Linked DNA regions of Homo sapiens. The protein of the gene in region 3 interacts with the protein of the main gene of each other region in a biochemical or structural test. Each region holds a gene or a part of one and is shown on either strand. Other genes may lie near its edges.

The links.
Region 1: the proteins of SNTG2 (region 3) and ABCC4 interact in a test that uses a peptide from one of them, tested with the Homo sapiens proteins (one large-scale study listed by IntAct).
Region 2: the proteins of SNTG2 (region 3) and XKR7 interact in a test that uses a peptide from one of them, tested with the Homo sapiens proteins (one large-scale study listed by IntAct).

Annotation. Positions count from the first base shown.
Region 1 is NC_000013.11:95,022,338-95,025,550, forward strand, and holds part of ABCC4 (ATP-binding cassette sub-family C member 4), read right to left. Parts: intron 1-3,213. UniProt on the Homo sapiens protein: ATP-dependent transporter of the ATP-binding cassette (ABC) family that actively extrudes physiological compounds and xenobiotics from cells.
Region 2 is NC_000020.11:31,971,097-31,974,751, forward strand, and holds part of XKR7 (XK-related protein 7), read left to right. Parts: intron 1-3,655.
Region 3 is NC_000002.12:1,363,201-1,366,855, reverse strand, and holds part of SNTG2 (gamma-2-syntrophin), read right to left. Parts: intron 1-3,655. UniProt on the Homo sapiens protein: Adapter protein that binds to and probably organizes the subcellular localization of a variety of proteins. May link various receptors to the actin cytoskeleton and the dystrophin glycoprotein complex.

The DNA.
Region 1 (3,213 bases), on a different chromosome or scaffold from region 3:
GCCTTTGAGTTCCTGAATTCTACCAATTTCTAGCTGAACTAGAAGAGATACAGGTTTTCTGATAAACGTATAATCAGAACATAAAGGAAATGAAATGCTGTCAAGTTTCTCTGTTCCACAATCATCAGTTTTTAGTAGCTGTATCGTATCTTGGTTCCTTGACAGATGCGCATAACAAAATGAAATAATGTCAAGACTTGTGAGCTCTTATCTCAAAACGTGTTTGGGTGAAAAAGGACTTCAAATGTAATTTTTTTTCCCCAAAGAAGAATGTGAAAAGTTTTGTTTGAATCTTTAAAACAGAAAATGTAGCAACTATCTGAGGCTGACACGTGTCACCTGGGTCTCTTAGTCATACGATTCTGGATCTATTTTATAAAACCTTGCTCTGAATATATTGGTGGGTGCTGTCAACAAAGTTATCACTGGAGATAATGGGATTCACGTACAAAAAAGAAAGTGCTGAGACACCTGCCTACATATTAAGTGTACTTTCTTTTTCTCTCACTTCTTGCACACTTGTTACTCCAGAAATATCATTACATATAACACACAATGTACTAAAATGTCACTTAAGGAGAAAATAAATTGTCCAATAATGCTGGAATGCCACCAGAAGAAATCTGAGGCTATTTCCATTATAATGCAAGTGTTCAAAAGTAAGACTTTTCAGGGGATAATTTCATATCATCTCCCTCTCCCACTTTTTTAAGCTAGCCATATTTTGTGTGGTTATAGATTTATGTACTCCAAAAAGGCTATTCTGTAGTGAAACTAAAAACAGCCAAAAGAACAAATAGACATTCACATCACTTTCTACTGCTTGATAGCCTTCCCCAAATAGGCTGCTTCCTTCTGTGTAACCCTCTTGATGTATTTTTTTAAATATATATAAAGAAAGTGTTGTTATTAGCAACTTTAAACCCAAATGGTCTTAGCTTCATGGTCTGAAATACTTAGTCAAAAACAAACTTCCTGTGTATATATTCTTTGATTTGACCTTTCTTTTTCTCTTCTGCTACCAGGTTTTATAACACACTATGGGTAACAGCACAGGTGAGATGAAACATCTTTTTTACAGTGCAGGTGATGAAGGGAGTTGAGATTACTGAACTACTTTTAGCAAAGCCCTCATGTTGTAAGCTATGTCTGGGATAGACAGGTCCAGTCTCAGCTCTCTCCTGGATTCACTGCTGATTCTGGAAAAATTACCTAACCACTCTCTCTACCAGCTGCCTCATCTGTAACATGAGATAACAATAGCTTACGTCACAGGAACTGATTAATGGCTACAAACTACAGGTTGAAAACCTGCTGCATTAGTGTTGGGTGTCATGATGAATGCTGCTCAGAGAAGTGGCCCCTAAGCACACAGAACGTGGAGGTATCGCCCAGCTCGAAGGATGAAGACAAAGCATTTAGGAATCCCTCTGGTGCATCTTTTATCTTTACAGAATCCCAAAGCTGTGGCTGAGACAATTTCAACTGAATGAATATGGTAACCTGGGAGGCAGAAAGGTAGAACTGAAAGATCATAGAAGATGGAGTATGAACACTTTTGAACTGGTGGCTTTGAAAACTTACTCAGGCTGGGCGTGGTGGCTCACACCTGTAATCTCAGCAGTTTGGGAGGCCAAGGCAGGTGGATCACTTGAGGTCAGGAGTTTGAGACCAGCCTGGCCAACATGGTGAAACCCCATCTCTACGAAAAATACAAAAATTAGCCAGGCATGGTGGTGCACGCTTGTAGTCCCAGCTACTCGGGAGGCTGAGGCAGGAGAATCACTTGAACCCAGGAGGCAGAGATTGCAGTGAGCCGAGACTGCAACACTACACTCCAGCCTGGGTGACAGAGTGAGAGACTGTCTCAAAAAAAAAAAAAAAAAAAAAAGTTACTCAGCTTCTTGTACTTTAGCATTTTCATGTGTCAAAAGGGGATAATAACAGCAGTTCAGAAGGACTGTGAAGCTTAAGGGAGACAATGCCATAAGCGTTCACGTTTGCGGCAAGAAGAGTATCAGGTCAGTGAGTATGGGAAACCTTGTCCCTCTTTTCCTTCTTCTCTTGAGTTTGCTCCATTATAGTTCCTCTAATGTAGGTTGAAACTAAGTTCATATTTAAACTCTAACTCATCAGTAAAGCCACCGTAACAGAGCTAGATTTTACTAAAATCAACAGAGCAATACAAGCTCCCGCACGTGGACAAAGGAGAGCAACTGGGCTTTGATTGACATTGCATTCCTAAGATACCATCTGATGTGTTGAATTCAGGCTCAAGACCCTGTCAGTTCATTTTTACTGATGTGTATGGCCCTAATTCAATCACAGTAACTCTCAAGGCCTCAAGTTCATCATTTTTAAAGCCAGTCTAATTTTGGTGTACATAATTGGCATGCATATTGTCAAAGAGTAATGGAGACTTAGAAAGGACTTCTGCTTTTAATATAATGGAGTAATGAATTTCCTCTCCTTTTCCTTTCAGAAACCACTCTGAACATCAAAGATATTCATTAATAAAAAATAAGCTAAATCTTTGTGAAATCAGGAGAGCCTGAATGGTAAAATATCATGAAGGGCTGCCATATGCAACTGGAACCAATGGGGCTGTGGCAAGGCTGAGAAGATGTCTATGAAGAGCAAGCCTCAACAATCATAGGAATTCTCCAGTTAATTGGAGGAGCGCTAAGGTATGTCAATAAAGAATCAATTAGAAACATCTTTGACTGACCTATGTACATTGGTGAGGTCCTGACAGAAGACAGATTGCAATTGCCCAATTCTGTAAGCTAAGGAGGAAGAAAGGCAAAACATGCACTCTCAATTTCACATACACACACACACCCACACACACCCACACCACACACCCCCACACCCCCCACACACCCCCACACACACCCATACACACACACCCACACACACACACACCCCCACACCCCCACACACACCCCCACACACACCCACATACGCCCACCCCCCACACACACCCACACCCACACACCCATACACACACCCACACCCCCACACACACCCACACCCCACACACACCCTCCCACCCCCACACACATACCCCCACCACACACCCATACACACCCACATCCCCTGACACCCACACACACACCCACACACCCACACACCCATACACATACACACTCACATCCCTCCCTGCATCCCCCCCACCACACACGCAGCCTCTCTGGGTCATAAAGTACTTCT
Region 2 (3,655 bases), on a different chromosome or scaffold from region 3:
TCCAGTATGATAGAAAGTCAGGGCTTCTGTTGCACTGAGATAAGAATGTGAAAAGAGGGGCAGGGAGTTGAACTATGTGGGTGAGGACGGGAACAGTGTGTATTGTGGGGAAAAGGCTGGATTCGGGGGTGGTCTGGTCAGGAGGCTGACATCTTTATCCTAGTTTGTAACTATAGTTTGCTGGGTGACCTTGGGCAAGGCTCTTTCCATCTTTGGGTCTCGGTTTCCCTGTGTGTGAAATGAGATTCAATGTGATGACCTTAAGAGTTTCCCATTCCTGAAATTCTGACTCTGGGTCTATTGCCAAAGCAAAAGCCTCTGGGCCCTTGCCCCCAAAATCTTTGGATTCTAAAATGGCTAAGGGCCTGGATAAATGGAGGGAAAACCCAGAGAAGGTATAGAGAAGCTGCAGGGGCTGGCATTCCTAGAAATTAAGCAATGTTGGCCCAGCACATTTGCTTACCACGTGAGATGTTCCCACAGATGTTCTGAGTGGTGGGGCCTGGGGTAATGAAGAGGGAGATGTGTGATTGAGTCCTCCAGAATCACACCTGGGAGGCTAGGCAGTCACTCACCTCCTGATCCCATTTCCTCAATTCTGAATAAAATAATTATAATCATGAAGATATTTTTCAACCTCTTAGACTTGTAAAATCCTGAATTAAAAATTCAAATGCTTTGAGGACCCAGGCAGGTAACAGACCATAAGACCATAAGATACAAGGGGTGTCAGACAAGAGGACATTCAGGGGCAAGTAGTGTCCGAGGAAAAGGGAAGCTCCAGCTGATCATGCCATGAGAAATCGTGGACCCAGTCTTGATTTCTCAAGAGAAATGGGAAATTGGGATTTTTCCGTGAACTCTCCAAAATTTAACTACTAATTAAAATGTTTAAAAATAGTGTCAACCAAAGGAAACATATTTATTAGCCTGTCTTCTTTGTAACCTCTGGTTTAGCTCTTCAAATTGATAAGGTCTTTTCACACAGAAGATTTTATTACTAATTTAAACATAAAATGAAGCTCTGAAGAGAGAGAGGAGGAGAAAGCATACACAGACACTGCACACCTACCGTGTCCCCACAGGCCCTGTGTGAGTGTTTCAGGCATGTGATCTCATGTTACTCTGAAACCCTCCCCCCTGGTGACTATTGATATACCCATTTATCAGATAAGGAACCTTGTCCAAAAGTCACCCACTGAGGAAGTGAGGAAAGGTGATCAGTCCCAAACCTAGCTCTATCTTTTACACCACACACTGGCTACTTTGGGACATGCCAGAACAATATCTTTGTGCACAGAGAGATTGAACTCTGAGGGAACAGCAAACAGATCCTCTGGCGGGGCACGAAGCTGGCTGTGGCCTGGACACCAACCTGCAACTTCATCCCTCCCTTCCCTTTAAACTCTCTGAGCTGTTAAACTGCCCAGGGTTCTTAAGCTAATTAAAGTCCTAACCCTGTCCCCTCTGACCCTGTAGGCAGCAGAGCAGTAAGCCATGAATCCTGCTTTTCCTAATCTTGAGCTCAGTGGGCCCCAGCTTCACCCAGATAAGCATGGTTTGCTAAGCCAATTAGTGGGAGACGATCTGACATGGGATTCCTGCCAGGCTTTCGGGATCTGGGAACCCCAAAATGGGGAGAAAATTAGGCAATTGGGATTTAGGGGCCCTCCCTCTAATGCCCTCTCTATGCATAGGCCCAGACACTGCACTCTATGTCACCTAAGAAGCCCTGCATGACAGAGAAGTTCTGGAATGAGTTAGTGACCTATTGGAAGGAAATGTCAGGCTCTGGATTTCCCCTCTGGGAAACTACATTCTTGGCATAACGGTTGAGAGGGTTGAGAGCACGGACTCTAGATTCAAGTGTCCTCAGTTTAAATCCAGACTTTACTACTTCTTATATGTGACCTTGACAAGGCAAATAATCTCTCATCCGTTGTAAACTAGGGACCAAAATTGTACCCACCCGCCTCTTAGGTTGTTTCAAGGTTTAATGAGATAATGTGTAAGGGTTCAGCAAAGGGCTCATTCCATCGTTAAATGCTCAGAAACTGCTGGCAATGATTAGTGCATTAGCTTGGGCTTTGCTCCCTGTGGAACAAAGCTTTGTTCACGGAGCACATGGCAGGACAGCAAGGGGGTCCTGAAGTCCCTTGAAGCCATAATGACATGGCAGTCATTCATTTAATCTGCAGTCATTCATTCAGCAGACATTTATTAAGCACCTGCTGTATACCAGGCACTGTTCTAAGTGCTGGGAATAGAGTGGTGAACAAGACAAAGTCCTTGCCCTCTTGGAGCTCAATAGCCTAATGAAGGAACCAATAAGAAAATAAACTATGATATATATTATATGGGATATATAATACCTGGGCCAGATCGTGATAAGTGCTATGGGGAAAAAAATGAAACAGGGCAGGGAGCTACTGGAGTGCCAGGGAGAGGTGTGGCTCTTTGAGATAGGGTGGTCAGGGTGGACCTCTCCAAGGAGGTGGCATGTGGGCAAAGGGCTGCACGAGGTGAGGACAAGCTGTGTAGAGGTCTTGGGGAGGGTTTTGCAGGCAAAGGAAAAGGGAAGGGCAAGGAGAAGGCCTGTGTGGCAGAAATAGAGTGAGGGGAGCATGTTTGGAGATGCTGGTGGACAGATTGGCAGGGGCGAGGTCATGCAGGGCCTCAGAGGCCATGGCAAGGACTAGGGCTTTTACTCTTCATGACACGGGGAGCCCAGGATAATTTGGCCAGAGAAGGAACATGATCTTGACTTGTGTTTTGCAATGTCCACTCTGGCTGCTGGGTGGGGAATAGACTGGAGGGGCCGGGCACAGTGGCTCACGCTTGTAATCCCAGCACTTTGGGAGGCCGAGGCAGGCGGATCACGAGGTCAAGAGATCGAGACCATCCTGGCCAACATGGTGAAAGCCGGTCTCTACTAAAAATACAAAAATTAGCTGGGCATGGTGGTGCGCACCTGTAATCCCAGCTACTCGGGAGGCGGAGGCAGGAGAATCGCTTGAACCTGGCAGGTGGAGGTTGCAGTGAGCCGAGAGTGAGCCACTGCACTCCAGCCTGGGTGACAGAGCAAGACTCCATCTCAAGAGAAAAAGCATAAAAAAGAGAGAGAATAGACTGGAGGGAGGCAGAGTAAGCCTGGAGATGCATGAGGAGGCTGCTACAAAGATGCAGGAGAGAGACAATGGAGACTGGATCAAACTGTAGCAACAGGGATGGGGGTCTGCTTCAGGCTGAGCTAATGCGACCTCTTTCCTTCTTTGGTCCTCAGTCTCTCCACTGGGGCCAGAGTTAATGGTTCAGCATCCACTCTCTGGAATCAGCCATATCCTGCACCTGCCACTTTCTGTGATTTGGGGCAAGTGGCATGACTTGTCTGTGCCTTGATTTTCTCATCTGCTAAATGGACACTCTAATAATAGCACCTATCGCATGGTGCTTGAGGTAGTAGAAAATTAAATAATGTTTAGTGTTCAGCACAGTGCCTGGAACATAGGAAGTTCTCAACAATGATAATTAGACATTGTTATTTGTAAAACAGGTCAGGGGTTGGATTCCATCATTTTCAAACTGTGTTTTATAGCCCTGTCTCCATCATTTTAACCCAAGTATCTCTGAATGTCTCTTTTATGACATGTCTAAG
Region 3 (3,655 bases):
ATGCCAAGGCCGCCCTTGGGAGGAACAGTGCCTGCTGTGTGGGTGCATGTGGGCTTCATGCCAAGGCCACGCTTGGGAGGAACAGCGCCTGCTGTGTGGGTGCGTGTGGGCTTCATGCCAAGGCCACGCTTGGGAGGAACAGCGCCTGCTGTGTGGCGCAGAATAGGCAGTGTGCACAGCACGGCGGGAAGCGAGGAGGGGCCTTGTTCACCCACCCTGTCCCCATGGCTACGGGAGAGCAGGAAAGGGTGCCCCAGGGAGAGTTTCCTAGAGAGACGGTTATACCCCTACCCCCTCCCAATAAAAAAACTGAAACAAACTCCTGGATCCTTACCTCCGCATGTTACAGACACTAAATGTCCTGTAAAAGCAAAAATGACCCACAAAAGGTTCATCTTCTCTCCACAAACTGCCCCACATAAAGTCCCTGTGTCAAATCAACAGAAAAGTCCACAGTGAACCCCAAAGCTGACACAGAAGTTAAAGAAACTGTTTTTAGAAGTTATTCAGTTACTGGGGAAAAATCATCTTCCTGTTTTTGATGGTAAAATACGAATCTTGCCGTCCTGCCACCCCCATTCTATTGGTAGAAAAGAAGGTCTAAGTGCATTCTTCTAATGTTGTCTTTCTTCTTTGTTTGCATAACAAAATTCAATAAAATGAAGAAAATAAAATTTATTTTGAGGTGACTGCTAATTGATTGACATCCTATTTTCTAAATCTCACCAAAATTCTAGCATATTCTAAACTGCTGAGATGACACCAGAAAGAAAGATAAATCATTTTCAAGAAGAAGAGCAACGCTAAGGCCTGTCAGTTCCACAGACATGCTCCTTTAAGCTCTCGAAAGGCAGGATCTTGGTCATTTTCATTCCATGGCAGAATGAGGGGGTGGAGAATGGGGCCCCAGGCAGGATTGGAGGTCACACATCACCGGGTAAAGCCCTCCCTCCCCAATAACATCCATCTCAGCTTTTCGGAGCTGCTTTTCTTTATAACTCAAAGACGTGACATCTCAAAAATGACTTCAAACTTCCCTGACAGCATGAAGTCCCCTCGGCCTCTCCCTGGTCCTCTCTGCATGCCTTTCTTTTAGAAACTGCTTCTCTCTTGCAATAGGTACAGGACCCAGCTGGACCAGCCAGAGCCCAGTGGCAGCTTGGTACAGATGACAGGGAGAGGGAGGCCAAGATGCCTACATTGGTGTGACCAGCTGTGAGAAGTGAATACCTGAAGCTTGTTCTAATACCACTAATGCCAAGTGGAGAGCCAGCGAGCCAGCCTGCCGGAAGAGGACTTCAACACAGAGGAACACCCCATGCAGGGATACACAAAGAACACTGGGGGACATTGGGTACCAACATGCTGGGAGCTGCCCCCAACCTCCTAGTGACTGCAACCAAAGGCTTCATCTTTCCTTTATTCCAATTTGAATTAAGTTCCTTCCTATGCATGTGAATGACTCTTAACATTGACAGCTACAACACTAATTATTTTGATCATTTCAAATTGTGATGAGCAAAATGTTCAAGATGTTGAGGTGTATTCTCCTGCCAAAGCTTCATAGTCTTTAGGTAGTTTCATAAAGCGTCATTACACTTGGTAACCAGCATCCCTCACTCTGGTCATGAGTGGAACCCAGGGCCTGCCCAGCCCTTGTGTTAAACTTTAATTCAAGCTGGATTCGCCAATCATACCCAAAGCGTGAGACTGTACTCAAAATCTTTTATTCATTTTGACTTATCCCTGTTAGAGGAAAAAAAAAAAACCAAGTAGCTTTCTAGAAGAAACACAAGGTTCTTGCAAACTTAGCACATATTGTAATTCAATGTATGTATGTGTTTCCAAATAGCAATTACTGAGCTTTAAAGGGACTTTTGGAGAAAAAGAGCCATAATGACCATATCATTCATGCTTCAGGGTTTTGGGTTAATTTTATTTTTTTTGAGACGGAATCTCACTCTGTCGCCCAGGCTGGAGTGCAGTGGCACAACCTCCACTCACTGCAAGCTCCGCCTCCTGGGTTCACGCCATTCTCCTGCCTCAGCCTCCTGAGTAGCTGGGACTATAGGTGCCTGTGACCACACCCAGCTAATTTTTTTTTTTTTTTTTTTTTTTGGTATTTTTAGTAGAGATGGTGTTTCACCATGTTAGCCAGGATGGTCTCAACCTCCTGACCTCGTGATCCGCCCATCTCGGCCTCCCAAGTAGCTGGGACTACAGGCGCCCACCACCATGCCTGGCTAATTTTTTTTTGTATTTTTAGTGGAGACAGGGTTTCATGTGTTAGCCAGGATGGTCTCGATTTCCTGACCTCGTGATCTGCCAGCACCGGCCTCCCAAAGTGCTGGGATTACAGGCGTGAGCCACCGCGCCCGGCCAGGGTTTTGGTTTTATACATAGAAACTGAAAATTGCTTTACAAGTTCCCAAGATGTATCCAATAATAGCACAATGCACAGAAATAAGAAGCCAAACAGCTACCAGTAATAATGCACATATTCAAAACAACATCAATAGTTTTTGGTACCATAAGTTGAAGTTACACTGCATAATCTTTGAAAGTACTAGCAATGGCTGGGTATGGTGGATCACGCCTGTAATCCCAGCACTTTGGGAGGCCGAGGTAGATGGATCACCTGAAGTTAGGAGTTTGACACCAGCCTGGCCAACATGGTGAAATGCTGTCCCTACCAAAAAAAAAAAAAAATACTAAAAATTAACTGGGCATGGTGGCAGGTGCCTGTAATCACAGCTACTTGGGAGGCTGAGGCACAAGAATCACTTGAACCCGGGAGGCGGAAGTTGCAGTGAGCCGAGATTGTGCCATTGCACTCCAGCCTGGGCAACAAGAGTGAAACTCTGTCTCAAAAAAAAAGAAAATAAAAGAAATTACTAGCTAGCAGTGAAATCGGTCACACCACTAAATTCCACACTAAAACTCAATGAGTAGTACTGAAAGCCAGGAATGAAATTAAAGCTTATGAAACAATACTCAATCCATTATGTCATGATCCAGATACTGAATAAACAAGCATCCTGTGGGCATTTCACTGAACATCTTCAATTCAGCCAAAAGCTGAGTCATGATATCTCTGGTCTGGTTAATTTTCTAACCAAGTATTACCAGCAAGGCTATCTTGAATTATGAATTTTTAACTAGAGCTGATTGAAATCACATTTTGACATTTTGTTTGAACAAAATACTTGTGTTGAGTTCTAAGCTGGGGACACCCTGTATGGATCCCTCGCTGCACTCCTCACCTGTGTTCACATGTCGGTCATGGGCTGATGTGTTTCCACCTGCAGAGGAAAGGGCACCTGCTGGCTCTCTGTGCAGGAAACAGTGTGGAATGAACAGTCCAATATGTTGGGTTAGGGAGTGTCAGCCTAATACAATGACAGAGAGAGGCTCTCCCAAAGTTTATTTGGGACTATGTAGGCAATTGCAAGCTGGGACATATGTGCTATAAGAGATTATAGGGATATCCAAAGAGGCTGGGATTCAGGAAAGCTTAAAGGCAAAGTGAGGAGGTTACAGAAGTTGTTTTGAAACCGTTATCCTTGGCTACAAGGATCAATAGCAAGGGGAGCTTGTGTCCTCATAGAAGACTTGTCTTTGCACAAGGTTGCAGTGGTCTTTGTGCAGCTTGTGG